Linked DNA regions of Homo sapiens: region 2 is linked to region 1. Evidence: fine-mapped expression QTL. A gene starts in region 1. The other region holds a variant in brackets. All regions are shown on one strand. Distances are from middle to middle.

The links. PIP is the estimated chance that this variant, and not a neighbour inherited with it, causes the effect. A credible set is the group of variants that fine-mapping cannot tell apart.
Region 2: its variant is the best candidate, but not a certain one, in a credible set for the expression of METTL13 in unexposed skin (GTEx, PIP 0.84).

Annotation. Positions count from the first base shown.
Region 1 is chr1:171,773,931-171,789,260 of GRCh38, reverse strand. It overlaps METTL13 (methyltransferase 13, eEF1A N-terminus and K55), which reads right to left and starts at 7,601. Exons shown (of 8, transcript NM_015935.5): 1 at 7,141-7,601; 2 at 4,762-5,521; 3 at 3,183-3,382; 4 at 1,331-1,526. The coding sequence starts at 7,293. RefSeq lists enhancers at 7,255-7,788, 7,618-7,912.
Region 2 is chr1:171,210,391-171,225,720 of GRCh38, reverse strand. The region is part of intron 2 of FMO1-AS1 (FMO1 antisense RNA 1); the gene reads left to right. It overlaps LOC124900413 (a long non-coding RNA gene), which reads left to right and starts at 1,360. Exons shown (of 2, transcript XR_007066731.1): 1 at 1,360-1,724. FMO2 (flavin containing dimethylaniline monoxygenase 2) reads right to left here. Exons shown (of 9, transcript NM_001460.5): 9 at 13,035-15,330. RefSeq lists an enhancer at 5,527-6,088. The variant T/C (reference allele first, on the strand shown) is at 8,090.

The DNA of each region.
Region 1 (15,330 bases):
GATGAGTGGAGTCGGGGTGCTTTTCAGATATATTAAATCACTTTTTAATATGCTCTCCTTCTTGCTCACCAATACTCCCATGAGGGAGAACGTTCTTTCCATGAGAACAAAGTGCTACCAAGAAATCAAGGAACATGACAATGGTGAAAAAACCTGAAACCCAAACTGAAAGGGGCAAAATGTTCTTTTAAGCAATTTTACTGAGATTTTAGTGAGATGAAACTGGACCAACCTGCAGCCACAGTGACCAAACAATAGGGCAGAAACCCAACAATCTTGGGTGCTCTTGGCCAGGGAAAACCCCTAAAGAAAAATACCATTTCGCTGGGTAACTTGATTCTAGGCTCAGAGCCAGTCTATGACCTCAAGCATCTGAATTCTCTGTCTCCACCCTCCTCCCAGATGGCCTTGCTATGAGGGCAGGCCAGTCAGGCAAAGGGAACAACTGGGAATCAGGAGAGCCATTTCAGCTTCCATCCTTGAATCTCTGCGCCTCAGACAGGGAAGATGCACTGGAGACGGAGAGGTGAGGGGCATTCACTTTTCGCGGTCTATATTTGACTTTTGAAGTGATTTCAATGAACAAGTATCACTTTTAAAATACAAACTAACACAGGTAAAACAAACTATTGATTCCCCATCGGGGGAGTTTCTGAGTGACAGCTGGGAGACCACTTAAAGGGATCCTAGAAGAGATGGTTTAGATCTACACTGTCCAATACTAGCCACTAGCCCCCTATGGCTGTTGAAATATAAATGTAAATTAATTAGAATTAAAGAAAATTAAAATTCAGTTCCTCAGTTACACTAGCCACATTCCAAACGCTCAGCACTACATATGGCTAGTCGCGACCACATTAGAAACTCAGGAACTAAACATCTCCTTCATCACAGGCAGTTTTACTGAACAGTGGTATACTAGAAGGCCTCTAAGTCACCCGCCAATCCAAAACCCTCTGAAACAGGTGAGTCACACTATGGAGGGCAGGGCTCACCTGCAACTTCCATAGTTCTGGCTCACCTCACAGAGGCCTATTGAAACAATACACAGATGTATATGGAGCACCTGCAAAACAGATGCCTTTAAACCGAAGACATTAATGTGATTATCACTGTATTTGGTTTCACTACTCACGTCCCCTATCACTTCAGAGCCAGGCTCTGCTCAAGAACAGAATGTACTCTGCTTATAGCTATTCACACCCTAAGAGTCCAGATGGTTAAGAACCTACAGACACCCAGGTCCATCCTACATCTCGGCCAAGCTCCCAAGAAATCTAGTCCATGCCACGGCCACTTGGGTCCCACCACTGTGCCTATGACACCTCACCTTTGTGAGACACATCCTTCAGCAACCTGGCTTCGGACTGCACCACATTCCTGTTGCTGAGGAAGATCAGTCGACGGAAGTATCGCTTGTCATCCCCTTGCACATCCTCAATGACATAGTCACCGCTCAAGGGGCTGCAGTCTTGGTGCTGAACGGTCCGGACCCCAATGTCCCCACCCACAGACAGAAAGGGGACCTGAAGGTACAACCAGAGATGTGGTCAAAACAGCAGCTCATTTAAGAAATAAGAGAAATTATAACCCCTTCCCTTTTGTGTGTATATATCCCCATACCACGGTTCTAGACAACAACTACTCCACAGATTTGCCATTCTATTAAAGTACTTTTCTGGAGCCTTTGAACTGATCTCAAAGGTTTAATTCATCTTTTGAAAATCAACTGGACACATAAAGATCTCCCAAACAACTAGTGAGATGCAGCTGATTCTCCCCAAGTTCTTTTAGGGGTTTTTCTCATCAGTAACCCCTAAAAGAACTCTCAATAGTCCAGGATAACAAAAGCTAGAGGGAACCCTCAGGAAGGGGCTGTGATTATGAGAAGGAATCTACACAAGAATAAAGATAACAAAATCCATGGGAGAAACAACCACTCCAAATCTAGAGAGATATTCCTTTCCCCTGATTATTCTCATCTATTTTTCCCCCACTTTTCTGAACCTTAGGAGAAAAATATACTTTCCCCCTAAACTTTCCCACTCCTTCCCCCTATCTTTATTTCTTTTTTTAAAGACCTATAAGACTAGTTAATAATCACCAATATCTCCTGACCCTGCAGACTCAGGCACTGGTGAGAGGCCACAAATGAAGCTCCTCAGAGGATCTGGGCTTCCTTGAAATAGGGGTCATCAACCCCAAAGTTGGCCAGGAAGAATCAAACTTACATTCATCTGTAAACACGAGTCAGCCTAGTGGGCAAAACCACAGGCCAGGAACCCAGGAGCCTGGGTTCTTTTTTTTCAGATCTGTTACTATTTGCACCAAGCCTCTAGATACCTTTGCTTTCCCACCTATCAAGAAGGATCAAAGCTTGGGCAACATAGGGAGACCCTGTCTCTACAAAAAATGTAAAAAAAAAACTAGCCAGGTATGGTGGCTTGCACCTATAGTCCCAGCTACTACCAAAGGCTGAGGTGGGAGGATGGTTTGAACCCAGGAGGTTGAGGCTGAGGCTGCAGTGAGCCGTGATCACACCACTGAACTCCAGTCCAGCCTGGGCAACAGAGCAAGACCCTATCTCAAAAAAGAAAAAAAAGGATCAACTCCTCATCATGAAGTTCTTTTAGTAAAATCACTTGTTCGTTACCCATGGTGACCAGGATAGCACAAGACAGTTGGTGTTAACTGATAATACCATATCACCACTTAGGCAAAAACCTTCGGTTTCCTTCCCAGTAAAACACCTGACCAGCAATGTGAATACCTGGATAACTGTGCTGAGCTGTTTTGGCCCTCTTCCATTTATACCCTCAGATAATGATAGTTCTAAGAAGCAAAATGACCAAGAAAGTCCAGTGTGGAAGGAGAAATCCACAGTCAGAGCAACTCAAATTAGGAAGAACTGAAGCCCGCAATGAGTAGAGCATTTCCATCCTGCCATGTCTATGGACTCTGAGAGGCTCCCCCAGACACAGACGCTACTGTGCTCACTTTCCTCTCATTGCCTGGGGCAAAGGACAGTTTCCCTGCCATTTAACCCTTAGCTGCTGATACCCCTCCAGGATTAGATGAAGAGTCACAGACTCTAGTCCTAGCTCCTGCCAAGGCTCCCTCTGCCTCCCTGGCTGCTAACATGACTTCAGAGACCCATGAAAGCCGTACGAAAGCTTTGTTACCTGCTGCTGGGTGGGCATCCCAGCTGGGGCCAGCTCCATGACTCTAGCCGACAGCTCAGCTTGGATGTGGTCCATGCTTTCATACTGCTGACCTCGGTGAAGGGCCACTGTAATCAACCTCCTGAAGCCAGCACTGGCCGCCAGCTGTTTCCGGCCCTCATCCATGCCAAAGAGCCACTCGGTCTCCCGGCCCTGAGGGACTAGAAAAAAGAACTTGGTTACAGGGAGTCCTGGAAAGTGATCAAGCCCACAACCAATATGGCCCAAACGGCAGGGAGCCAGTCCCTGTCCAAGACCAGCATCTTCCCCAACTGTGACCCACTGAGGAGCTAACAATTCTCTAGTTCACAACATCTAGGGCAAAGCAGCCCATCAGACATAAGGCAGGACCAAGGGTGGAGAAGAAGTGTGGGCATGTCCGTAGGGGAAGGAGGCAGACACCTACCACAAGAAAAACAGCAGTAATGCCAACACAAATAAGCCATGCCAGGCATGACTCCAAGCTGTTGACAAATATATATTAATGGAATCCTCCAACAGTCCAAGATGCAGGTAGTAGTATTATTCCCATTTTTACATATGAGGAAACTGAGAAACAGAAGTTACACTATTTGCCCAACTTCGCACAATAAGTAAATGGTGAAGCTGGGACTCAAACCCAGGCAGTCTAGCCCCAGACTCTACCCACGCTTGTATTCACTGCACTATTTATTTCCACACATGGACAGACAGAATTATAGAATACTTGAAAAACTAGCTCAGTCACCAGGAAACAAATTACCGTAACACCAAGACCATAAACACTTTGCATTTGTCTACAATGTTCCACTTTTGAAAGCACTTCCTCCTACTATCTTTTTTATCCTTATTAAGATAAATCTGATATAACTTACTGCTTTCAGTAATAATGGCTAACATTTACACAGCACTTCCAAGGCCAGGTACCATTTCTAAGAGCTTTTATACTTCTCACAACTACACCAGAGTTACAATCCCATCAAGGCAGAGAAAGAAAAGTAACCTGTCTAATGTCACACCATCAGGAAATGACTGAGCCAAAACTGAAACCCAAACAGTCTGGTTCCAGAGCTCACTTTTTTAGCTGCTACCCTATGCTGCCTCTCCAAATTTTGCAGAGAAGCACAGCAACTTCCCCAGGTCCTGCAGCTCACAGGCTACAGCTGGGACTAGAACCTATGTCTTAGACTTGCTAGTCCAGCATTACTTCCATTACTCCATGCTACAAAGTAACTAGCATCTCTATATCATATGTGACCTCCTAAATTTATCTCTATTCTCTCTCTTCCCTACCAACCCCATTCTCACACTTCATCAAGCCTTTGCAATGGCAGATGAAAAGGAATAGGTCTCAACTCCAAGTAGGTTGCTAGAGAGCTATTACTCTCCTTTCATCATGCCTTGGGTAGTCTAATCCTCTGGAAGTACAAACCCCTGCAAGACAAAAAACAGTCCAGAATCCCACCAAAGCCCCAGCCCAGCCTCAGCCCCAGCCCCAGCCCAAGCCCCAGCCCCTGTAAGCCAGCCCCTCCAGGGAAGAGAGGGAGCAATCCCAACTCACTGATGAAAATCGCAAAATGATTGTCCCGCGATGGTTTCACAGTGGGGCTGTCCACCACGTGGAGGGTGTAGCGTGGCTCCCCCGTGTCCCCATCGCACAAGTCCAGAGACACACTCCCCAGCCTGGCCTTGCGGCGCAGCTGGCTGCACAGCCAGGCATACTGCTGTCGCTCCTGCACCGCCTCGGCCAGCCGCTCGGCACTCTCCAGCCGCACAGGCTTGCGCTGCTCCTGAGCACACAGCTCAAAGATCTGAAGGGCAGAGCCAGGGACTGGCCTGAACTTGGTCATGATGAAGGCAAAGACAGGCAAGGAGAACTGAGGCTCTGCTTCCAACACCTGGTCCTGGCTGTTGGCCACTTGGTGCACCCTCACCATCCACCCCTCCCGGGAGAAGTGGCCCACTGCTTTCTTCAGGATGTGAGCCTGAGCCAGGGAGATGCAGAGATAGCGACCGCCCACCTGCAGGACACGGCCAACCTCAGCCAGCATCCTGTCCACCTGTTGTAAGGTCTTCTCTTCCTCATCTGTCAGGACAGCATCCAGGGTGCCCTTGTCCAACACCACCTGGAACGAGGCATCAGGAAACTCCATCTGCGTCATGTCCATCTTCAAGAAGCTCATCTGGGGCCGTCGGGTGGCATTACATTCCTTCATTTGCTTGATGACAACCTCACTGATGTCGATGTTCACTATATCCCGATAGCCCACATCATACAGTTGCTCACTCAGTTCTGAGTTGCCACACCCAATCACCAGCACCTGGAGAAAAAATTCACAGACAAGAGGGAGGTAATCAAAGCAAAGGACTGTACTTCAGGTACTTCAAGGAATCAAGTCTCACCTTGGCTGAGTCACATTTTCAGAAGGTGGAGACGCTACTGCCAGAGAAAGAGCGACATTGTAGAGTTGATGCTAGACTCTATCTTGAAACACCACATATACTTGCTAGTGAAAACCACATTCAGCTACAATACAGGTTATATGAGAATGGGCTTTGTGTTGCAGAAACAAATTAATCATAACTGTTCTTTTCTCTAAATCATGCACTTATTACTCAGGAATTAATAGGAAGTCAGAGAATCCAAATATAGAGTTACAGTTGAAATCCTAGGCCAGGAATAACCCTATTTCCTCACTCTACTCATGCCTTTGGCTCCTTTAGACAATAAAGTACACTTTGTGAGGATTCAAATCTTACTTCCATCACGGATTCCATCTCATGATATTTGGCTATCTTCTGAAGCCGAACTTAAAATTCAGATTGTTGTCTCCCTCTCCAGGGAGCAATCTCCCATTCAAACTTAGAAATTCTGATATTGCCATCTTTGGAAAAGCATGGTACAAAGAGATGTGCATATGCTCTGGAGCCAGACAGGCCTGAGTTTAAATCCCCACATGACCACCTGGACATGATCTTGGGCAAAAAAAAAAAAAAAAGTGGCTCTCGGGGCCTCAGTTTCCTCATCTGTAAAATGTATGCATGGCCACTCACCTGAATTTATGATGAGAATTCAAAGATTGCACATGCACATACACAGCACCCAACATAAGGCTTGGCACATAAAGCTTCCCCACAAATGTTAAGTTTTCTACCTTCCTCCTTCCCTACCTCCAGTACAATCTCACCTATACCAAACCCATTGTTGTACTTATCACGTTTCACTTCTGGAACATGTGCAGGGTTTACGTCTTAATGCTCTTATAGTTTAAGGACTGAGCAGTGCCTGAAACTTGGGGCGCACTCAACGACTATTTGAAAAACAAATTCATACACAAAGTCACACCTGCTGCAGGTTGCACAGGAATGCACAGTGACAGAAGAACATACTTTCAAGATGGGAAGTCACTCTTCAAGTAGGGTTATTAATCCAAGAATGAGCTGGGGTGGGAGGTCTATTATCTGAAAACCTTTAAAGAAATGTTTTTTTTTTTAGACAGGGTCTCACTCTGTCACCCAGGCTGGAGTGCAGTGGCGTGATCATGGCTCACTGCAGCCTCGACCTCCTGGGCTCAAGCGATCCTCCCGCCTAAGCCTCCCGAGTAGCTGGAAATACAGATGCGCGCCACCACGCCCGGCTAATTTTTTCATTTTTTGTAGAGACGAGGTCTCATGTTCCCCAGGCTGGTCTTTAACTCCAGGGCTCAAGCGATCCTCCCACCTCGGTCTCCCAAAGTGTTCGGATTACAGGTGTGAGCCACTGCGCCCGGCCTGAAAGAATATTCTAGTTTGTCTTTTAGCAGGAACAATGCAGGAAATGCTGAAATATGCGTCCAACTAGGGTCCTCCCGCCTGTCACTGTCCACCAAGTGCAAGATTCCTGTTACCAGTTCCCACCTTCCGGAGCACGTACGAAGGGCTACCAACCCGCGCTCCTCACCTTTTCCCTGGGCTTGATATATTTATGTAGCACCCCGCACAGTTCCAGGTAGGTTCCATACCACTCGAAAGCTTTCTTTCCTCGCTGCTGGAAGAACTTCTCCCAATAGTCAACGGAGCCAAACTCCCTGGAACTTTTAGGTAAGAGGTTCATGTTCCTACTGCCGAAGCTGCGTTTTCAAGACTCCCCTATTCCCTGTGAGATACCATTTGAGGAGCTTGCCCACCACACGCAGGCTCCGGGACACTGCAGTGGGAATTCTTTCCACGGAAAAACAGCCACATTGATTTGTTCCCCCACTCCAAACCCCAGGAATGACCCTTACACGACAAACGCACGCATGGACCACTGAATCTCACACACGCTTGCCCCCTCCTCCGCGCCTGCTGTTCCTTCCCCACGTGAAGAGCCCCTCACACTTTTCCCGAACTAGATTTCCGAGCCCATAACCATATCCGGGTGCGAAGCCTCGTGATTCGTCGGCCGGCCCAGCCCAACTCAGCTAGTCATTGGTCGCTGCTTTGCGTTTCTATCACCTCATTGGCTGCGACGTGCTTGCCTTTCTCCGGAGGCTCCGTCGCAGACACCTAAACGCTTTTTTGACCTGAGGCCGGCCGACCATTCACGGAACGGGGCGGGACCGCGGGCCGGAGTTGTGGCGGAAGAGGCCGGGCCTCTGTGAGAACTAGGTCACGTCCGGGTGAGGAGTGAGCGCGGCTGTGCTGTGGTTGGGCCCTCCCTCCAGGCGGGGCGGAGAGCGCGCTTGCTTCCTGGGCTCGGCCTCCGCTTTGTCTTGGAGCCGGCTTAATCACTGACTCCGATCGTGCGCCGCACAAGGGCGGAGCGCGGCAGGCGGGAGCGTACTGGTAGAGGAGGACGAAAAGAAAAACCTATACAGATAGGAGAGAAGTGAGGCAGGAAATGAGTAAAGCCAGTCCGTCGTAAAAACGCTGCACATTCTAACCTTGTCAGCTTCTGCGCACCAGCACCCCCCGCCTTATTTTGCCACCTCTGCACCAAAATATAGGATTCTGCTATCAAAAGTGTAATAACATGAAAACTCCCTCTTCCTTCTCTCCGCAAAGCACAGCATGCAAAACTAGCCTTTCATTTTGATAATTGGCCTCCTTGTGTTATTCTGACGTTATTTATAACTGCTTATTTTATGTGTTTGATAAACATACTGTACTTTCACATGCTCATGCTAATACCCTGAGGAAGCTTCTGTGAAGGGCACTTTTTTTTCAGACAGGGTCTGTCTCTGTCGCCCAGACTGGAGTGCAGTGGTGCAGTCATGGCTCACTGCAGTCTCCACTTTCCAGGGGTCAGGGGATCCTCCCACCTCAGCCTCCCAAGTAGCACGCCACTACCGCTGGCTAATTTTTTTTTTTTTTTTGTAGAAATGGGGTTTCGCCATGTTGTCCGGGCTGTTCTCAAACTCCTGAGCTCAAATGATCATCTCGCCTCACCCTACCAAAGTGCTGGGATGACTGGTGTGAGCCACTATGCTGGCAGGCACTATTTGAAAATGACCAAATATGTGTATCACTGGGCCTTTCATACCATGATAAATTGCAGGAGGAATATACTGATTGCGGAGAGCAGATAGGCTTGGAATTGAGCATGTGTGCTGTGGGCTGTTACATACTACACTACCACAGGTAGATAGCCAGGTAGACTGTTAATAGTTAAGTAGGTTAGATTGGACTTAAACATTGGTTTAAAAAAGTGATTCTCAAACTGGCATGCGTCAGAATCACCTGGAGGACTTGTTAAAACACAGAATTCCCCAGTCCAACCCCTGTTCTAAGTCATTAGTTCAGTGGTGAGGCCCAAGGATTTGTGTTTCTAACAAGTTCCCACGATGCTGATGATGTTGGTCCCGGAACCACACTTTTTTGAGAACCACTGTTTTAAAATACAATTAAGTCAAAATGGATATGGTTCAAAATTCGCAATTTTCAATGATAAATCTAAAAGCTTTCTACAAGTAACATAAGAGAAAATCTGTTTTCATGATCCCTTTGCTGAGTTCACATTGTTCCTCTCTACCCAAGATAAAGAGAAGGAGTCCTTGAAGTAGTAACTTCAGCTACTACACCATGCAAGGTTCTGAATGGGTGAAATGTGAGTTCTTTAGGAAGCACTTATTGAGAGCGGAGGACATCACTTGTACTGAATGTGCTACACGATACCAAAGAAGCAAAACAGCATAGCAGCCAGGCGCGGTGGCTCACGCCTGTAATCCTACCACTTTGGTAGGCCGAGGCGGGCGGATCACTTGAGATCAGGAGTTTGAGATCAGCCTGGCCAACATGGTGAAACCATGTCTCTAATAAAAATACAAAAATTAGCCGAGCGTGGTTGTGTGTGCCTGTGGTCCCAGCTACTCAGGAGGCTGAGGCAGGAGAATCGCTTGAACCCGGGAGGCGGAGGTTGCAGTGAGCCAAGAGATTGCGCCACCGCACTCCATCCTGGCCAACAGAAGGAGACTCCCTCTCAAAAACGACAACAACAAAAACAAACAAAAACCATAGCAGCTGCTCTGTGCCCCCCAAAGCTTTATTCAATTCAGTTCAACAAATATTTTAATTGTCTAATAGGGGCCAATCACTGTGGTAGAAGCTAAGGATGCAGTGGTAAGCATGGTAATCACGTGGAGGGCACATTAAACAATTACAAAAATAGTCTGTAATGGGAGTTATAAGTGCTGTGAAGGAGAACCATACCATTCCATGATAGTATATCTTTGTGACCTCTACTGATCTAAGGGGTAACCAGAGAAGGCTTCCCTGAGGAAGGGACAAAAATACTATATAATCTGACTGCTTAATATCAGCATGACATAGGTGAAAAACCAAAAAGCATGGTTCACCTTCTGGAACCTTTACAAGAATTTCTGGCTGCTGCTTTTCCCTCTGTCTCCATTGTCTGTTCTGTTAAGGTCATGTTATTAGAAAAGACGAAGTTATTTCTATCACAGCCCAGGCTCCAGCCCCGTATTTGATGCTCTAAAAGTATGATTACTGTTTGCAGTGTTTTTCAGACCAAAAGGGTAAGTAACTTACGTTTTTCCATCTGTGCCTGCCTCCCTTCTGTGAGCCTAAAAAAGTGATAACAACCAGAACATTTTAAGCTTAAACATACTAGAGATTTTCTAAAATTGTAAGATTAACACAGAAATATTTTAGATATATTGTAACATTAGACCCTAGCATTAACCTTTCAAAATACTTATTTGAAGCTTATTTCTCTCAAGATTTAACTATGAAATATAATTGATAGGTATGTGTTATCATTAGTATACTTAGTTAATTTAAACCAATAAGATGTTAAAATGCTTTGTGTTTTATTAGGATCCCCAGAGTGGTTAAAAATATGATTTAAAATGCAAGCTAAATTTAGATAAAGCCATTCAGTATTGTGGAGTTTTTTCCTAAAAATATAAATCCAGACCTCTGGATATATAATTTACAGTCAAACTTACTTAATTGAAACATTCTCATAATTGTGGTAATATTCAATTGATTGTTACTACGATTAATTGTAAAATAATAAAGAGGGAATAAAAAGCATCTCTGACAATTTGGGAGGCAGAGGATGAGAGAGGCAAAATAATGCTCCCCTAAAGATGTCTACCTCCTAATCCCCTGAACCGAAACTGTGAAGGTAACAGGTTACAAGGCAAAGAAGAATTAAGGTTGTAGATGCAATTAAGGATGCTAATCAGCTGACATAGCAAGATTATCTAACTGAGCTCAATGTAATCACAGGGTCCTTTTTCATTTTCTTTCTTTTTTTTTTTTTTTTTTTTTGAGACGGAGTCTTACTCTGTTGCCCAGTCTGGAGTGCAGTGGCACGATCTTGGCTCACTGCAACCTCCGCCTCCCAGGTTCAAGCAATTCTCCTGCCTCAGCCTCTTGAGTAGCTACGGATTACAGGCGTGCACACACCCAGCTGATTTTTGTATTTTTAGTAGTCTCACCATGTTGGCCAGGCTGGGCCACAAGGGTCTTTTAAAGTAGAAGAGGGAGAGACAGAAGGGCTTGGCCCAATGTTTCTGGCTTTGAAGATGAAGGAAAGCAGCCATGAACCAAGGAAAGGCGGTGACCTCTAGAACCTGGAAAAGGAAAAGAAATGAATTCTCCTGTAGAGCCTCCAGAAGAAATACGGCCCTATTGACACCTTGATTTTAATTTATTGAGACTTGTCAGACTTCTGACTGATCCAACTGTAAGATAATAAATTTGTATTGCATATAGTACTAGTTTTTGGTAATTTGTTACAGTAGTGATAGGAAACTAATACGGAACATAAACAGAAGAGAGAAAGAGAGAGAGAGAGTATGTGTGGTTGGGGCAGAAGGTCACAGTGGGGAGAAAGCAGCAGAAGATACAACTAGAGGCTGAGGTAAAGGGCAGGTTTTGAGGAGTCTTCTATTCCACATATTTAGCTTCAGCCTGTCAGGCCACAGGAAGTCAACAGAGAAGCAGAGTCATGACAGAAAGACCTGATCTGAGAGATGTTCTCAGGAAAGACTGAGGCACTTGATGACTGATTGAATAGGGGGAATAAAAGACTGAGGGACTCATAAATGACTCCTACATCGGCCTCTGGATGACTGAAGAAATAGTCTGTAGAAAGAAACGGGGAAGGAGAAAGGGGTATTATTTGTAGAACTGTTGCTAGAAAAGAATTTAGAGGTTATCACTCCAGTAAAAACCAGAGCCAGAGCTAAAAGCCAGTCTCCCCACCCTGCATGCCTACCCCAGGGCTCATACCCTTCTCACTTCCTGTCAGTGGTATCCAGTTGGAGTTGGTAGGTCCAACACATGAAAATGTTTCACGAGTGGGATATAAAATTAAGTAAAGGGAATGTCTCTTTGGTGTACAGGGAGTGGCTCATATAATGCTGGAAACTATTTCAAATTGGAAATCATCTTAGCAAATGGGTTTGTTTTCCACATTTGAGAAGTTTAAAAATGAATGTTCTCCTGTATCTTGGGATAATAGAAGGCAGACACAATAACATCCTAGGGTAACATTCTGCCATTTTATTAGCTGAGTGTCAACACTTTTCTTGACGATATTGTTGACCTGAAAAGTGACTATCAAGCTGATATTGGATTCCTAAGATTGGGATGATGATAATAGCTACTTATTTATTTATTTATTTGTTTGTTTGTTTGTTTATATAAGACAGGGTCTCACTGTGTCACCCAGGCTGGAGTGCAGTGGTGCAGTCACAGCTTACTGCAGCCTCGACTTCATGGGCTCAAGTGATCCTTCCACCTCAGTCTCCCAAGTAGCTGGGACTACAGGTACGAGCCTCCATGCCTGGCTAATTTAAAAAAATATATATTTTTGTAGAGACAGGCTCTCCCTATGTTGCCCAGGCTGGTCTCAAACTGCTGACTTCAAGGGATCCTCCCACCTCAGTCTCTCAAAGCGGTAGGATTACAGGTGTAAGCCACCATGCCCAGTGCATCATAGTATTTTTTAGTTTGTATAGCACTTGTGATTGGCCAAGAATTTTTCTCATACACTGAATCCATGGGAAGGAGAGGCTCAGAGCTACAGAGTTAATTTTCACATTGGCAGAGAATCCCTTTGGGTGAATGTGCCAGCCTTGTACAAGATTAACAAATTCGTTTCAACATAGATGATTACACACTGCTTTCTTAAATATATATACCTATACATATATAATTAAGGCAAAATTCCAATTGATTACAAGTAAGTGAAAAAAAAAAGTTATATATGACTGAGCGAATTGAGCCGTGACTGCCTCTGGTATTGTATTTGATTCCCAGGATTTTCTTTGTGCAGTAGTTTCCTACTCTGTCACTAAGGGCGTCTGTTGATGGATTGGTTTCCTCATATGCATGGACTGCAAGGCATTAATATAGGGCATATTATACATTGCAAGTTGTTTGCCTTTGGGGCCAGTAGGCAATAACATTTTGAAAGCTGCAAGACTGGGGAGATGAAGGAATGATGCCAAGGTTAACAGGCTGTGCATGAATACATTTGACCCCTATATGAGGGGGCTCACAAAGCCTCCTTTTGACTGTCTTTGTTTTCTACAGCCTGGATACTGGGAAAAACCACAAGGGTAAGCTATTAGACTGTTTTCTTCATAATTTTATTCCAAACTTCAGTTTCTTTGCAGGAAAAGAAAAACTTGAAAAACATTTTGTTTTTCTCCTACACTCTAGCACTCTAACCCATGACCATCTCATGTATCCCATTTTTATAGATGCTCTCTGTCCTCAGCCCATAACAATATTTTTCTACCACTAAGGGAATGGATTTTAAAACAGCATTTAATAAATAAAATTCACTTGAGTACTCCACCCAGAGGATTTTTTAACGTTCAGATCCAGAGTCCTCAAAGAAACCAGAAAAACAAAACTCCCTTTAGTCCAACAAAAAAGTTATAGTATGTAATACTTCTCTAAAACTAAAACTGTTTTCTTGCCATGGGGCTGCACGAATGACCTTTTCCTAAGAAGAATCACAAATTATGGTGCCAAAACATTTTACTGTTCTTAATTCATCTCATCTTTGAATAGTATATCTTCATCCTCACTGCTGACATACAGTAGAAAAAAAATTTCCACGTGTCAAAATTTCATCCAAGCAGCAGCTCTGATGTTTTTCATTTTTTTAATTTTTAAAAAATTTTAAACAGTTCATCATGTAAGCTCTGGTGTTTGAAGACTCAAAAGAGAAATGTCCTCAGAGAATATGGTATATTTCTGAAGACAGCTGACAGAAGAGGGAACCCTTAGCTAGAAACTATATAGCACAGAAGTTAAGGTTGGGATTTGGAATCAGAATGATCTAGACATGAGCTACCATGCTGGGCTGATTTTTTTTTAATAAGATTTTTTGAACTGAGATATGCTTCACATAAAATTCACCATCTAAAAGTGTACACTGGGCAGGCATGGTGGCTCACACCTGTAATCCCAGATCTTTGGGAGGCTGAAGCAGGAGGATTACTTGAAGCCAGGAGTTCAAAACCAGCCTGGGTAACATAGGGAGACCCTGTCTCTACAAAACAATTTAAAAATTAGCAGGGCATGATGGTGTATGCATATGATCCCAGCTACTTGGGAAGTTGAGGTGGGAGAATCACCAGAGCCTGGGGCTGGCAGGGTTGGGGGTGGGAGTGGCTCAAAACTGCAGTGAGCTGTGATTGTACCGCTACACTCCAGCCTGGGTGACAGAGTGAGACCCTGTCTCAAAACATAAAAAATAAAAAAGTATGCACTTTTGTGTTTTCTAGTACATTCACAATGCTGTGCAATCATTACCACTGTCTAATTCCAGAACATTTCCATCATCCCTACCTCTTAGCAATTAGTCCTATTTTCCCCTCCTTCCTGTTGAAACTGCTTACCTATTTTCTGTCTTTAATAGATGTGCCTATTCTGGATGTTTCGCATGAACAGAATTATATATTATGTGGTCTTTTGTGTCTGACTTCTTCTACTTAGTATAATGTTTTCAAGGTTCATCTTTGTCATAGCATACAACAGTATATATATATTCCATTTTATGACTGATAATATTCCATTGTGTAGATAAATGTGGTATATCTATTTATCCATAGAGGGAGTTTGGGTTGTTTCCACTATTTGGCTATTATGAGTAGTCTTGCTATGAACATTAATGTACAAGAATTTGTGTGAAAAGTGTGTTTTTAGTTATTTAGAATATATAGGAGTAGAACTGCTGGATCACATGGTAATTCTATGTTTAACTTTTTGAGGAACACAATGATCATTTAAAAGTATAAATCTGTCCATGTCACTCTCCGGTAGCTTCCCAATGCATTGAGAAAGAAATCTAGAATCTTAGCATACCCTTTCATGATCCAACTTTATCTTCTATCATTCTCCTTGTTCACCAAGCTCCAGACACACTAACCTGCCCCTTCCTTCTCAAAAATGCCAATTCCCTTGGTGTTGGGAAAACTGGATATCTGCATGCAAAAGAATGAAGTTGGACCCTTACCCTACACCATATACAAAAACTAACTAAAAACGATAACACTGTGAAGCTTCTAGAGGAAAACTTAGGGGGAAAGCTTCAAAACATTAGATTTGGTAATGACTTTTTGGCTACGACACCAAAAGTATAGGTAACAAAAGCAAAAATAGACAAATGGGACTACATTAA
Region 2 (15,330 bases), 560 kb after region 1:
AGAGTAGCTGGGACTATAGGTGTGCACCACCATGCCCAGCTAATTTTTGTATATTTTTGTAGAGAAGGGGTTTTGCCATGTTACCCAGGATGGTCTTGAACTCCTGGGCTCAAGCAATCCACCTACCTTGGCCTTCCAAAGTGTTGGAATTACAGGCATAAGCCTCCATGCCTGGTCCCTTAAGAGTCTCAAATGCTCATATGGAGCCATCCGTTGTACATCAACTAATCTCATTATAGTTAGAAAAACAAAAATATCAGGAAAACATAAAGAATAATCCAACAAATTCGACATTGTGAATTGTGAATTTTATACTGAGACCAAACAAGTCCATTATGATGGTGAAAAAAATTGGACCTAGGTTATGGTCAATTTCTCAAAATTCAAAGGCTGATAAAAGAGGGGAATTGTTAAATTAAACTTTGGCCTAATGCTGTCTCTAAATGAAGCAAACTATAACCTAATATATATAAATAAAGCATAATATATGTTATATGTATGTTTTATATATATACATTATATATGTATATAAACCTATATATATATATATATATATATATATATATATATATATATATATAAACCTACCTTGAGACTACATTCTTGTAACAAGCAACTGAGTCTCAGTTAACTGTAGCAGCTGAGCTTTTGGCCAATCACAGGCTGCAAACTGCTCAGACATGTCCAAATAAAGCAAGTGCTAAACTGTAACAAATCAGGCTATTTTGTTATGTCACTTCCTTTTTCTATCTATAAATATGGACTGCCCACATTGCCAGGTAGAGTCTTCTGAACCTTTACTGGTTCAGGGTAATGCCCAATTCATGAATCATTTGTTTGCTCAAATAAATTATGTTAAACTTAACTTGTCTAAAGTTTTTATTTTAATAGCACCATGCTCTTTGAAATGCCTGTTCCTTGGTGCTGTAAAGAAATAGCACTTGAACATAAATTCAATTTCCTCAGCAAGGCCATTTCTATACTTTCTGCAGAAAGGGTACACTCACCAGCAGTTTTGCCATGAGAGTACACAGAACAAAGGAGACAGGGTCATTTATAACTTGATGCGTCCACCTTACCACCTTACTGCTGTGTCCGGTTTCCATTGGCTAGAACAGGACCTCACATTCTGTATTTGTCCCGATTGGCTAGCAACTTAGAACACTTTAAAAGAGGCAAAAGCAGAGGAGAACAAAGGAAGGAGGAAGTAACTTGTAGAATGCTGAGAAAAGTAAAAACACCTTCAAATAAGGAAGAGAAACAGGCTATGACCTAATGCTTGCTTGGACTAGTATGAGCACGCCAAGGCAAATATTTAGGCTAAATTGTAAGAGCTAAGAACATAAAGTACATTGATTTCTTTATTATGGCTAGCAGATAGTTAAGAATGTTACTATAGGTCTTTCAATAAATTTTGCTTTTAAGGGAAGTTACTATTTATTCCTAATTAAATGGGGAGACAAGTCTTTCCAGAGGAACTTCTACTTTACTTTTTACAATTCCTCCTCTTATTTCATAATTCTTCTTCAAACTTGTTTAATATGTTTTGACTTAATTGCTTTGTTTGTCCTTTTAAGAGAAGTAATTTTTCTGAATAAGGTGGAGGAGAGTTAGGAGTTAACTCTGTAAGCATGGCAGAGACAGGTTTTTGTGTAAAACTTCGACGGTAGGGAATAATATAACAGCCTACAAGAATAAGTACACCAATAACAACAGCAAATGAGGTGAGAATTGAAGTTAAAATTTCTTTTTATCTACTGAACAAATGTTTTATTACTTTAGAAAAAGGGTTATTTATTTTATTATTTTTGGCAAGTTTATTGGATAGGGTTTTTAATTCTTGTAGCACTTTTGTTATAATTCTGTCAGGGGCAGTATTTTTAGGAACAAAGGTATAACATTAAATTTTAAGTATGACACAAACATCTTCTTTTTCTGCTAATATTATATTTAAAGTTATTTTATTTTTCTAGGCCATCTGGCTGATAGGTCCTAATTGCTTAGGTATCTCTTTGATGGTGTCCTCAGTGTAATTTATGAATCGTTGCTGATTGTAATAGATATAGTTTATTTAGCCTACTTTTTTTTATAGTTACTTACTAGAACAATGTGGATTTAAATTCTGCAGCTAATTGATTTTGTGCTTTAAACTTATTTGGCACTTCTCACAGGACTTTAATGGCATTTATGTAAACCTGAGGATTAAAGGACTCATAAGGAGTTTCCTTTGGCCTGAGGTGTTTTGTTTTTACCTTTTTAGATTGATGAATTGCTACGGTGAAAGGGATAGCGAATTGGATTAGAGCACAAGTACTGTTCTAATTATTTGGCAGAGTGTCTAATAAAGGTCTTCTACAGTACTACTATACATTTGCTTGGGGATGGCTAAGCATAGACTGATAATCAAGCTCTTGGAAAGACTTGAGCTCCTTGCATTTTTTTTATGCTTCCAAGGAACACCAAATTTTCCTCTTGCTATGAGAGGCATGAAGTAAACTTGGCCATCTGAGATGGAAGCTGGATTGCCCTTGGGGGCTGACCCGTAGGGTGTTGAATTTCAGGAAATAGCAGATAGAGAGCTCGGCATGATGTATTATCCTAAGCCATGGGATTCTGAAAGAGAGCCACCATACACTCCATATCTGGTTGACAAGGAGACCATCCAAGTGGAAAGGGGACAATCTGGGCCTCTGGCCTACCATGTGTACAAGCATAATAATCGCTTTTATTTAAAGTGCGAACGGAATATTTAATTCATTCCAGCCAGGCATTTGCATCTTGATATTTTTGTCTTGATGGCTAAGGTCTGTCTTAGATCTCTTATTTTTACAACAGACAGCTTAGTTTTATTATTAGATGTAGGAGCAACTGGTGTGGGATCTAGAACTGAGGCTACTGAAGAAGGGGAAGATGGGAGAATCATGCATACTTTAAAAATACTTAGGGGTCTTTTCCATTTATGTCAATCTTCATACCATAGAAGCAACTAAGGGCTGGCCTAGAGTTAGTCAAGGTGGAGGTGGTGATAAAGAGAAGGACAGGGTTACATAGATAAGGCTGCCAGTTAGAAGGGGTAGTCCTTTTAGTGAAATAGATGAGGGGTTTTAGATCTGCACAAACCTTTTTTGTGGAAGTCCAACTTTGCTTCTAAGTAGTTTAAAGGACATAGTCCTATTTTCTACAAGGTTGCCAGGCTGCAGGAGCAGAAAATCAGTGTCTTGGCTGCAGCTGATCACAATGATGAGTGCTAGGGGTAACTGTGTCCAGTAGAGAGCCGGGTCATAAATATTTGTGTGAAAAGGCTAGCTGTCATTGATCTTTTACATCTCCACAAGGTATGACAGAGCAAGCATTAAAGGTAATGGTCTGAGGTGAGTCAGACTTAGTTACATTAATAACAAAGAAGCTAGTAACAGAATAAGGAAAGGAAAGGAAGCAATATAGAAGGTATATGAAAATTAAGCTTTCTTTAACTTTAACTTAGTAGGGCTTGATCTTAGTACAGTAACATGATTCTGAAGAGGAAGATGTTTTCTTGACTCGAGTATGGTGGGTCCATTCTTTCTCAGCTGTGTGGACGGCAGTCTCAGTGGTTAACAGCATAAAATAGGATCCTTCCCAGGCTGGCTTGAGTTTTTTTCTATCTTTTGATGAGAATGTGGTTTTCAGGCTGGTGCTGGTGTACTGGAAATTCTAGGAATGGTACTTGTGCTAAAATACTTTCAGTTCTGAGGGAAGGGAAAGTGGAAGATAAATTAAGTGTGTAATTTCTGCTGCATATCCTGGGGCTTGAGGCCTCATGGTGACACCTCCTGCTCCATCTCTGCTCAGCACTGCCCAGGGGATGCTGTGGCCTTGCCCTCTCTTAAGGTCTTGGCCTTCTTGTGGCCTTCACCGCCCCTGTGCACTGTGGCCTTGGGGATGAGGAGCCTTGTGACTTACCCAGCCACTTTTGGGCCTTAAGAAAGCTAAACACCGTTTTATATTTGACAGTGTTTTTGTATGATTTTATACCAGATAAGTTAAATTTTTTATATTAATGTGCTATTAATGTTAAGCTTAATTTTAATAAAATCTTGTAGATATTTAATCTATTTTTGATGTCTGACTATAAGGTAAGACTTTTATAGACTCTTTTTAACTGTTTATAATTTTTGCTAAAGAGCAGGTTAGTGCTTTAAGAAAAATCTATTGTGCTTTTATTTTAATGTCCAGTTCACAGAAAAACTGGATGATACCTCTTTAACTTTAGCCATTATGTTTACACACAGAATTTCCTTTACAATTAACATTTTAAAACTTGCTTAAACTTTTAAAACAAAATATATATTTTTAACTTTTTAATGTATGTAAAAACCTATATTTTTATGCCTCCTTATAATCCTGTTATTAAAAATATATTTTATTTTTCTTACATACCTTGTAAATAAACTGTTTTTCAAATAATTTTACATTCAGGAGGCCTACTTACTTTTTAAATTATACAATATTTCTGGCATAAATTCCTTTTCATAACTTTTCTTACAACTTTCACAATCTTCAACATGCCTTAACTTTCTGCCTTCCTTTTACACTCTTTGTTTTCGTAGTTTCACCTTCTGTGTCTTTCTTTGATTTCTGTCTCTTCCAGTTTCTCTCTTACTTACTCTTTCCATCTATTTATCTCTCTCTCATTTGCACTCTGTTTCTCTCTCTCTCTCTGTCATCCCGTTTCCTTTTCCCCTCCTGAGTTCTCTCGCTCCCACCAACGGCAGGGTCAGGCCACGGCACGGGCCCCACCCCTGCGCATACATTGCCATCTGTTTCTCCTGTTTTTGTTTGTTTGTTTGTTTTCCGATTTCCCTTTTTACTTTTTTTTCCCCTTTCTTCCTACACTTAGTTTCTTGGGCTGGGTGGGATTTGCACAGCTGCAGTCCTGGCCCCAGGCAGTCCCCCACACTCTCCTTCTGGCATCAGTCCCTGCCCTCTTTTTCACATAGAGCCTGGCTGGGGAGAGGGGCTTAACTCTTGGTGTGCCTGGCTGTCTGGTGTCGCACTTGCTGTTTTTGCTGTCTTTCTCCTTTCCCTTCCCCTAGGGGAGCAACCGGCGGGAGTGGAGCTTAGCCTTTTCTTTCCCGGAGAAGAGGGAAAAGGAGAATTTTGAATATATACGTATATATAATTTTTTTTACTACCAGAGGTTTTTGTGAAGTTCAATCCCCTCACCAATGGCGATTTCTCACTTCTTTTTGAGATTCAACTTCTTATCTATGGGGATTTCTTACTTTTTTTTGAGGTTCAACCTCCTCTCAGTGGGAATTTCTTACTTCTTTTTGAGGTTCAACCCCCCATGGGGATTTTTCACTTCTTTCTGAGGTTCAACTTCTTTCTTAATGGAGATTTCTTACTTCTTTTTAACTTCTAAGACATCTTGACTAAGGAATACTTCACCACCACCCCCTCCCCACCCCCGAGGCTTTCTTTCCTTAGTCCTGACTAAGGAATGCTTTACCCCCCATTGTGGTTTCTCTTTTTTCGGAATGTCTTAATTAAGGAATGCTTTACTGCCTTGTGGCTTTTTCTTTGGTTTTGACTACTAAGGAAATACTTTACTGGTTTTTCTGTTTTTTTTTTTTTTTTTCTTGTCTGTGTACAGAGTTTCTTGGTTCATGTGATATGTGAGGATGCTTTACTCCAGGTTGCCAGCCAGTTTTTATTGTTGTTGTTGTCTTTCTTTTTTTCTTTTCTTTGTGTGTGTGTGTGTGTGTGTGTGTTACTGAGAGTCTGGGTTTATTCATCACACTGGGTGGGTCTCGAGTCCTTATCCTTGAGGCTACTGCAGAGAGGCAGAGGACCATGCTTCTTCATGAGACAGGACTGGAGACTGCCTCCATATGAGAATGTATCCCCGTACAGGCCACCAAATTATTTGAAATGTTTGTTCCTTGGTGCTGTAAAGAAATAGCACTTGAACATAAATTTAATTTCCTCAGCAAGGCCATTTTTATGCCTTCTGCAGAAAGGGTACACTTGCCAGCAGTTTTGCCATGACAGTACACCAAACAAAGGAGGCAGGGTCATTTATAACTTGATGTGTCCACCTTACTGCTGTGTTCAGTTTCCATTGGCTGGAATGGGACCTCACATTCTGTATTTGTCCCAATTGGCTAGCAACTTACAACTTTTTAAAAGAGGCAAAGGCAGAGGAGAACAAAGGAAGGGGGAAATAACTTGTGGAATGTTGAGAAAAGTAAAAACACCTTCAAATAAGGAAGAGAAACAGGCTATGACCTAATGCTTGCTTGGAATAGTGTAAGCATGCCAAGGCAAATATTTAGGCTAAATTGTAAGAGCTAAGAACATAGAGTACATTGATTTCTTTATTATGGCTAGCAGATATTTAAGAATGTTAGTATAGGTCTTTGAATAAATTTTGCTTTTAAGGGAAGTTACTATTTATTCCTAATTAGATAAGGAGGAAAGTCTTTGAAGAGGAACCTCTACTTTACTTTTTACAATGCTGAAGAGTGGCAATGTGACTATTAGGTACAAAATTGTCATCTTGCCATTAGTGTCAGTTACCATGATAAAATGACATTCAATTTAACCATCATAAAAGCATTGACAGTGGATGAATTAGGATTATAGAATATTGGATTTGATAGACTTTAGTCATTATCTGCCCTCTATTATATGCTGAGATGAGAAAACTCAGTCCCAGAAAGGTGAGGTAACTTTTCTAGAGACTACAAAAGTAACCTAATAGTAGAAGGCAAGAGGGTAAACATTATTGCAGAGTTAAAACAAAATGGTTTGGTAATGCGGAAGCAGAGGAGACTATTTTTGGCTGGAGGGACTCAGGAAAGCCTGAGGGAGAACAACATTTGACCTAGACATTGTAGGAAGGATGGAATTTTAACTATTAGAGGCTGGGGAGGCAATAGTGGAGTAGCATTGAGACAGCCAGCTGGGAGGAGGTCCCCAGAAAAAACTCCAACCAGCATGCACACAGGGATGGAGCCTCAAATATTTGCACCATTTGCAGTGGGGAGGAGCCTGGCCCCTCCTCTTCCTGTGTGGAACCTGGAATTCGAATGACCAGGTGGGAAGCACTCTAGCAGGGGACTCTGGCCTTGTAGAGAGTCCCTGTTTCCTTTTTTTCTTTCTTTTCACCCAATAAAACCCTGTCTTACTCACCATTCAAATTGTTTGAGAGCCTGAACTTTTGTGGCTGTGGGACAAAGAACCCCATCTTTAGCTGAACTAAGGAAGAGTCCTACAACATTTTTGGCACCCAACGTGGGGCTTGAGAAGTGGCAAGTGAACTGGGGACTCAAAACCTCTCAACGTTCATTCTAAGCCTTTTCATCCTCAAATTTCTGAGGGTAGGGGAAACCATTCCCCAATCATCTATTGCTCCCAGGCCTTTTCCTTCCTTTTTTGGGACTGACCAGCAAGCAGCACCTCCCCGCTGCTCTCCCCTCCCTTCTGGGGCTGGAACGCACGGTCCAAGTGTCCTGTACAGCCAGCTGGCTGTTGTTTTCCACCATGCACCACCAAAGCCTTCACCTTCCCCTGCTAAGGGGCTTTACTCCATTGGACAGTAATTAAGCTTTTCTCCTGGTGGAGGAACCAGTTGTATAAGAATAAGAGGGTCTTTCCCAGGCATTTTAAAACTTTTTTTCTTTCTCTGCCCCACTCCATCAGCAGTTAACCTTTAATTTTTTTTTTCTTTTAGAAGACGTTTTTTACTAGGTCAGGCCCCACACCTATCACCGTTTATGTTTTCTGCAAAGCTTTTATTGTGAAATCAAGCCTCCATTTTGTTTTACATCCTGAGGGCATGGCTGGTAACCACCGCTTGGCAAGGCTTTGCTTAGCAATCCTGCCTTAGGGGATGAGCCCTCTCTGGTTTGATGTCTGCATGTTTTCCTAGCCTTGTCTCTTAAAGGTACCCACCCAGTGACTGGGTTTTCTTGTGCTTGTCTGCTTGTGTACTGTGTGTGATGTCTGTAAAAACGGCTCTAATGAATCTGGTCCAAAGAAGGACAAACACTTGAATCTAATATTTTTTAAAGGAAAGATAAAATTTCTGGTACCTTTCAGTTCA[T/C]TTGACTTTAATCTTTAAGAAATAAAAACAGCCGTAAAGACTACGGTAAAATGCAGGTCAGATGCAAGGTTTGCTAAGTTTTTTGAGGTTACAAACTGTTTTTTGGGTTTTGAGACCTGTCTGTCTTGCCTGCTTCACAATTGGTAGGGCCTGGGAATATATGGAACTAAACACACCCTAGATTAAGAAGGCAAACCTTTGCAGCACTTACCACACAATTAAAGCAATTTAGCAGGTTTTACATTAAAGTTAAAAATTGCCAGGAGTTACCATTATATCACGTAATCTAAAAATAGATTTACACGCAAGATGCCTAAGAACGGTAAAATGTGTTTTTTAGTAAAAGGTTATAAGAAGGCATGGAAATGTAAACTTTTGCCTTGGATTAAAGGATTGTTTTGAGTTAGGTAGGAAAAGTTGAACGTTCAAACAAGTGATAGAAGCATTGTGGAAGTTAATCTTGCAGAAGAGGTTGTCTATGTGAACATATTGACTAAATTCAAAGGGTTATAAAAGTTTTTGCTTCTTTAAAATTTCTCAGTACCATTTTGGCAAAATAAATAATTTATGGTAACCTGGAATTCTATTTCATAATATCAAGTGCTTTAAACTTATTTAATAGGCTTCCCAAAATCAAACTTCAGTTTCCAAATGGTCTTTCCTGACACCTAACTCTTTGGATAGTCCAGAGGGCCCCTAGAATGTCCAGAAAAGAGAAGTAAACAGGATTATTTGACATGTTTAGGTACATGGTATTGCCAAAATGATGTTCAGTCTTCTTTAGGTTATATCTTGGTAAATAATGCTAATATATGTTCCAATATTGTATGGGATTTCTAAAATTCTAATGTCTAAGTGTATGCTATCAATCATAATAAGGTTGTGATGTTATTGTAAACCATGGAGATAACCAAACTTCTTTGTCGATTTTGTTTCTAACTGTAACTACCCTGGACATTTTGTAATTCACAGACAATTGTTGTCTTGTTTTAATCCTTTTCAAAAGATTGTTTATAACAAGCTATAGAACTTTAACAGGTGCTCTCAAAAACAGATTTCTGATAACTTTAGAGATTGTAACATTGGAATAAAAGAAAATGTACAGGACTCATAAAGAGCTGAAATATTCACAAATATCAAGCAAAACAAGAGTTAACTAAATGGACTGAACTGAAAAAGCTGAAGCAACCTTTTTGACTTTTGCTTGGAATATTGATGACCCTTGTTTTGTTTTTCAGTCAAGGAAACTCATTTTGAGCTATTTATGGCCTTTAATAATTAAGCAAGGTGTACTCCTATTATCAAAATTTGGAGCATGTTTGTTTCTCTCTCTCTGCCCAGTTCCTCCAGAATTTAGAACCTATCTGTGAGTATTCTTAACTTATGGCAATATAGTTGTTTGCATCCATGCAATAAGAATCCATTTTTCTTTTGCAACAGAACACAATTGGAGAAAGTGGTTATTTTACCAAGGCTTTGACTGGAAGGGTATGCTTCCTCTTAAGGAGTTAATCTCAACTGACAGAGCCAATAAAAGCCCAGTGAGGAAACTGGCCTCATACCCTTGTCTACATAGTCCCTGTACAGGGTTCCTGACCTGTGGTCAGTAAAGAATATCACTTTCTAACAGGTCTAGGAGCTCCAAGTTTATCTTGGGAACTTAAGAGGAGAGGATCACCCAACTCACAGGTGTTTAAGGATACAAACCCATGGATGGGCTCAGTTTTAAAAGGTCTTATCTGAGACTCCTTGTGGAACAGACTTCCATCAAAGCCAATCTAAAAGGCCTATGTAAAAATAATTATTCTTGCTGGACTTTATGCAAATAATCAGGCCAAGTATAAGACTAAAGTCTATTTAAACAACTAATTCCTATGATTATTTGTTTCTTAACAAAAATGAGGACTGGAGAGACAGAAATTACGTTCCAAAACTTATCATATATTTGTCACTAAATTCTAAACTCAATAGTTGTTTTTGAGTTTTTGCCTATATTTTAGACTAACCCTGCTTGCTCCTGTGAACCAACCAGCAATCCCTGGCTGCAGCTCAGAAAGAACAAAAGGGATGGGTAACATAGAAATCTGGATCAATAGTCTAGTTCCGAGCAATTATCCTGCAAATCCTGCCAGGTGATGGGAATAAATAGGATGCCCCAGACTTGGAGGTTTTCTTTTGGGGACAGTGAGACCAAGGGAGCTAACCAAAGCTGAGCATCATGCACCGAAATCCCGGCAAGCGTAACTACAGCTACCAGTTATCTGGGTGTGTCACAAGACATCCTTTCCTCTCCCTTGTTGGAGGACTTAATTCCACAGCCTCACTTTAGCATTTGGCTTATGATAAGGAGTCCATGCAACCCCCCAAGATACATTCTTGTCCCAGACTCAGTTCCAAGTGTTGGGTCAAAGCCCTAGGAAGAAAACTGGATCTGAGGAATCCAGAGGCAGATAGCAACAGAGGTTAAAAGGCACAGCACAGGTGAGTGTGGCTCATTCCTGCTGATTAAGCCAAGCCCAAGCTTCCTGTTTCATGGATAAAGGCTATATTAATATCCATAGCATAAATGCGATCTAGGGAACTCCAAGACTACTGACAGCAGGGGAAACGGCATACGTGGGTAAAAGTGGATGACTCCCCTGCCGACCCCCCCTGCTTCATGGGTGCAAGCCACTTTAAAACCCATGGCAGCACCTGCCAAGGTCACTGGAACTTGGGGATGCAAGGATGGAAGATGAAAAGAGGACACTCTTCCCTCTTTCCCTCATGTATCCCATGTATCTGCTAGGAAAAGAAGGGAACCAGAGATGTCTGCTCTCCTCTTTCTAGATGGGTAGCGATTCATCTTCAGTCTGTACCTCTTTCGAATGCATCCTGAACCCCTGGGACTCCTTTAAAAAATGCCTTCTTTTTTCCTTTTTCCCCCTCAGTTCTCTCTTCACAAATAGGTAGTTGCATCTTCATACTATGAGACACTCACATCAGATGCATCCTCCAAACTGGAAAGAGTTAATTTCCCAAACCTTAAACTGGTTGGCTTAGGATTGGGCTCAGGGGAAGGAAACCCAGAAGCCCAACATTCCGGCAAAAAGGTGAAGTTTTTTACTTTAAACAATTTTTTTTTAACCAGTCAGGCTTTTGGCCTCCCTCTCCCTGTGCAAACTGGAAAAAGACCTTAGAATTTTTGAGCTGTCTTTGTCCCTCCCTTTGTTTTGCTTTGATATATGTTTTCTAATAACCCGGTTTGTTTGTCCTTGCCTTCAGGCCATCGAACTCCAAATGGTCATGCAACCAGAGCCTCTGACAATGGCCCCTTTTGCCAGGAACCCTTAAATAGGCCTCTGAGGAAGCTCTGACTGCCGTTTCCCCAAAACAGTGCCACCTGTCAGCAGGAAGCTGTTAAGATTTGTCTTTGTCCTTATCCTTATTTTAAGGGCAGTTAGATGTACTTCTTTAGAGGGGGGAATGAGACAGCCAAGTGGGAGAAGGTCCCTGGAAAAACTCCAACCCACCTGCGCACTGGGGTGGAGCCTCAAAAATTTGCACCATTTGTAGTGGGGAGGAGCCTGGCCCCTCCTCTTCCCGTGTGGAAACTGGAGTTTGAACTCCAGGGCAGGAAGCACTCTAGCAAGGGACTCCGGCCTTGCGGAGAATCCCTGTTTCCTTTTAATTCTTCCTTTTTACTCAATAAAGCCCTGTCTTACTCACCATTCAAATTGTCTGTGAGCCTGAACTTTCATGGCTGTGGGACAAAGAACCCCGACTTTAGTTGAACTATGGAAAAATCCTGCAACAGCACAAAGCAAGACCAAGTGCCGCCATCTCTGTAGAATAGTAAGTCACATGGTTTGGCCGGAAAGCAAGCATGGTGGGCATAGCAGTGGGAGGTAAGGCTGGGAAGATAGGTTACAATCAATTAGAGAGTTTTGAATGACAAAGGAGGTGATAAACCTGTGGCAGCCATGAGAATGTGCCTCATGGATCTCTAATATAGTTAGTACAGGCAGTATAATTGACCAAGCTCTTCAGCTGCTGTACTTGAGATACATTTCGGTGCTTGTGCTAAGTCTCGCTTTCCTATGAGCTGTTTTCAGCCAGTGGGTAAGTATGTTAGAGAGACTTGGGACACCTTTGGTGGCTTGAAGACTTCTCAATGGTCCTGATGAATCTTCCTTAGACTGCACAGCAGTCTAAGATGTTTCTACCCAACCTTTCTCCCCTCTCTTTTTCACTCAGTGTCAGACTTGTGTTGCAATCTGATGACTCTTCCAGCTTTTCACTCCTTTATTTTAGTCTTCTTTCAGTTACTATAGCAGAATATATAAAGCAAAATAAATTTATTTTCTTTTACAAAGAAAAGAAATGTATTTCTTATAGTTCTGAAGGCTGGGAAGTTTAAGATTAAGGAACTGTCATTTAATTGGCCTCTGGTGAATGTCTTGATCTGCACTATGACATGGCAGAGAAGTGAAAGAGGAAGTGGGCATGTGGAAGAGGAAAGAGATGGCTGTCTGAATTCCTTCGTGATGCTGGAACCTCCCTGACCCAAACACCTCTCACTAGGTTCTACCTCCCAACACTGCTGCATGGAGGAATTAAGTTTCCAACTCATGGACTTTTGGGGGACACACTCAAACCTTAGCATACTCTCTCCTTATTTTCCTTTATACGGGTATTTTCCTTAATAAAATCCTTGCATATTTAGTCTCATTTTGACATGTGACCTGGATTAAGTAGAATCTAGTCTTAGAAGCCTTGTACTTAGCTTCATTAATCCATTTAGTCACAGGGCATAATGGGCAAGAAAGTGAGTCCTGTTAACACATTCTGCCTCCTTGGAAACAGCCAAAGTTGCAGGTCAGGAGCAGCAGCTTCCCGGATGAAAGACTGATGGTACAAAAGAGGCTTCCCTTTTAATCCTCATTATAATGTGGATGCTGGATTCTTTCTGGGTTAAGCATTTTCAATCTTTATTATTTGAAATTATTGTTTCAAATTTTATTACATACCATGGCCCTAGTATTTTGTTTAAAATATCTTTATTTTTCTGTAAAGAACAAGTGTGCCATATTTAGCTTTTGATAGAAAAAATTAAGAAACTATCATAAAGGGAATAGCTAAAAGAAAGGTTAGTAAAGGGAGCCATCACAAGGAGAGATTTTGGAAAAGGGTGGTGTCTTAGTCCATTTTGTGTTTCTGTAACAGAATATCTGAGACTGGGTTATTTATAATAAACAGAAATTTATTTGGCTTAGTTGTAGAGGCTAGGAAATTCAAGACCAAGGGGCCAGCATCTGATGAGGGCCTTCTTGCTGTGTCCACCCACGGCAAAGGTGAAGGCAGAAGGGAAAAAGAGTGTGTGAGGAAAAGAGGGAGCCAAACTTGCTTTTATAACCAACACACTCCTGAGATAATGGGATTAATCTTTTCATGAGGGCAGAGACTTCACCTAATCACCTCATTAGGCCCCATCTCCCAATACTATTGCAAGTTTCAAACACATAACTTTGGGGGACATATTGAAACTATTGAAGGTGATAACCATTGACATTCTTTACAGGAGAAGAACAAAAATTGTAAACTGCAGTTGGAGGACCAAGGCTGAACAGAAGGAATTTGTCCTTGAAGAATGGGAAATTTCATGGGCTACTCTCTGAAAGCAATTTTTATTTTTATTTTTGAGAGATCTCAAACTAATGGTTTCTAGATTTAATGTACACAGGAATCATCTGGGGAGCTTATGAAAACTGTGGATTTCAGCAGAGATTTCCATTCAGTAGGTTGAATTATTACTATGTTTATATTCAGGAATCTTCACTTCTATAAGCTCCCTGAGTTATTGTGATGTAGGTGGTCTGTGGCTAATATTTTGAAACAAACTACTCTAGATGGTTTTCCTGGGATAGTTTGATGTTCAGGATATATGGAGGCAGAAGGATAGACTGATGAGCCTTCTTTAACCTTTGAGTCAACCTCAGAGGTAGGGTTCTCTATAAATAAACTATTTACATTTTTCAAAGATACCAGAACATTTGGAAAGATTTTGAGAGATTTCTAAAAATTTTAGGGATATAAATTTAATAATATTTTCCTAGTGGAGCTATATTTCCGCACTGATTTAGCATTAACCTGACAAATGCTTTTCAATCTCTTCCACTGTAGAAGTAAGATAACAACCATAGCTACTAAATGGGTAGTGATAATGATGAAATAAGGCAAGTTATGCAAAATGGGACAATGCCTTACATATTATAAAGCAGGAATTATCAAACTTTTTCTGTAATGGGTGAGAATGTAAATATTTTAGCCTTGTGGGCCACAGAGATTCTGTTGCGACTACCCAACTCTACAATTGTAGCTTGAAAGCAACCACAGAAAATAAATGAATGAGTGTGGCTGTGTACTATTATAAAATTTTATTTACAAAAACAGATAGTGAGCTAGATTTGGCCCACAGGCAGTGGTAATTCACTGACCCTTGCTATAAAGGCTTGATAAATTTTATTAGTATTATTAATACAATGACTTACAAATAATCTTTAATACTTAACAAAGCAATATATTTTTTAACCAAGAACTAAGTATATACCTCATTTACAATTATTTTAAAACAAATTTGCTTATGGGAGCAATGAAAAAAAAAATCTTGCCTGTAAATTCTGGTGTAACTTAATTGAATTTTAAAGAAAAAGTTTTAACTACAGAGACTGACTGACATTCCATTGTTCTACGTCCCTGAGGGAGAAGTACCTTAATTGAATTTTAAAGAAAAAGTTTTAACTACAGAGACTGACTGACATTCCATTGTTCTACGTCCCTGAGGGAGAAGTACCTTAATTGAATTTTAAAGAAAAAGTTTTAACTACAGAGACTGACTGACATTCCATTGTTCTACGTCCCTGAGGGAGAAGTACAGGCCAAAATGAAGAGCAATGTTCACAAAGGCTTGGTAGAAATAAGAGGAGAAATTTGCTGGAATCTTCAACATCTCTGACCTTTGTTCTCTCTTGGAAGGGCTTGGTTTGGACTCAGGACAGAGCTTATCTTCCAAAGCACAGTTCAGGGAAGGAGCAGCTGTAACAAATGTTCCCTTAGGAGATGTTTGTCTATTATGTTGCTTAATGTCTATTGACATTGAATTGCTTTTGTTTGTTTCAGACTTCAATTCTAAAAAAAGTTTGTCTCTGCTAACAGACCAGTATACTTCCTTTTACCAAATGTTAGAGGTTACATATTGTTTA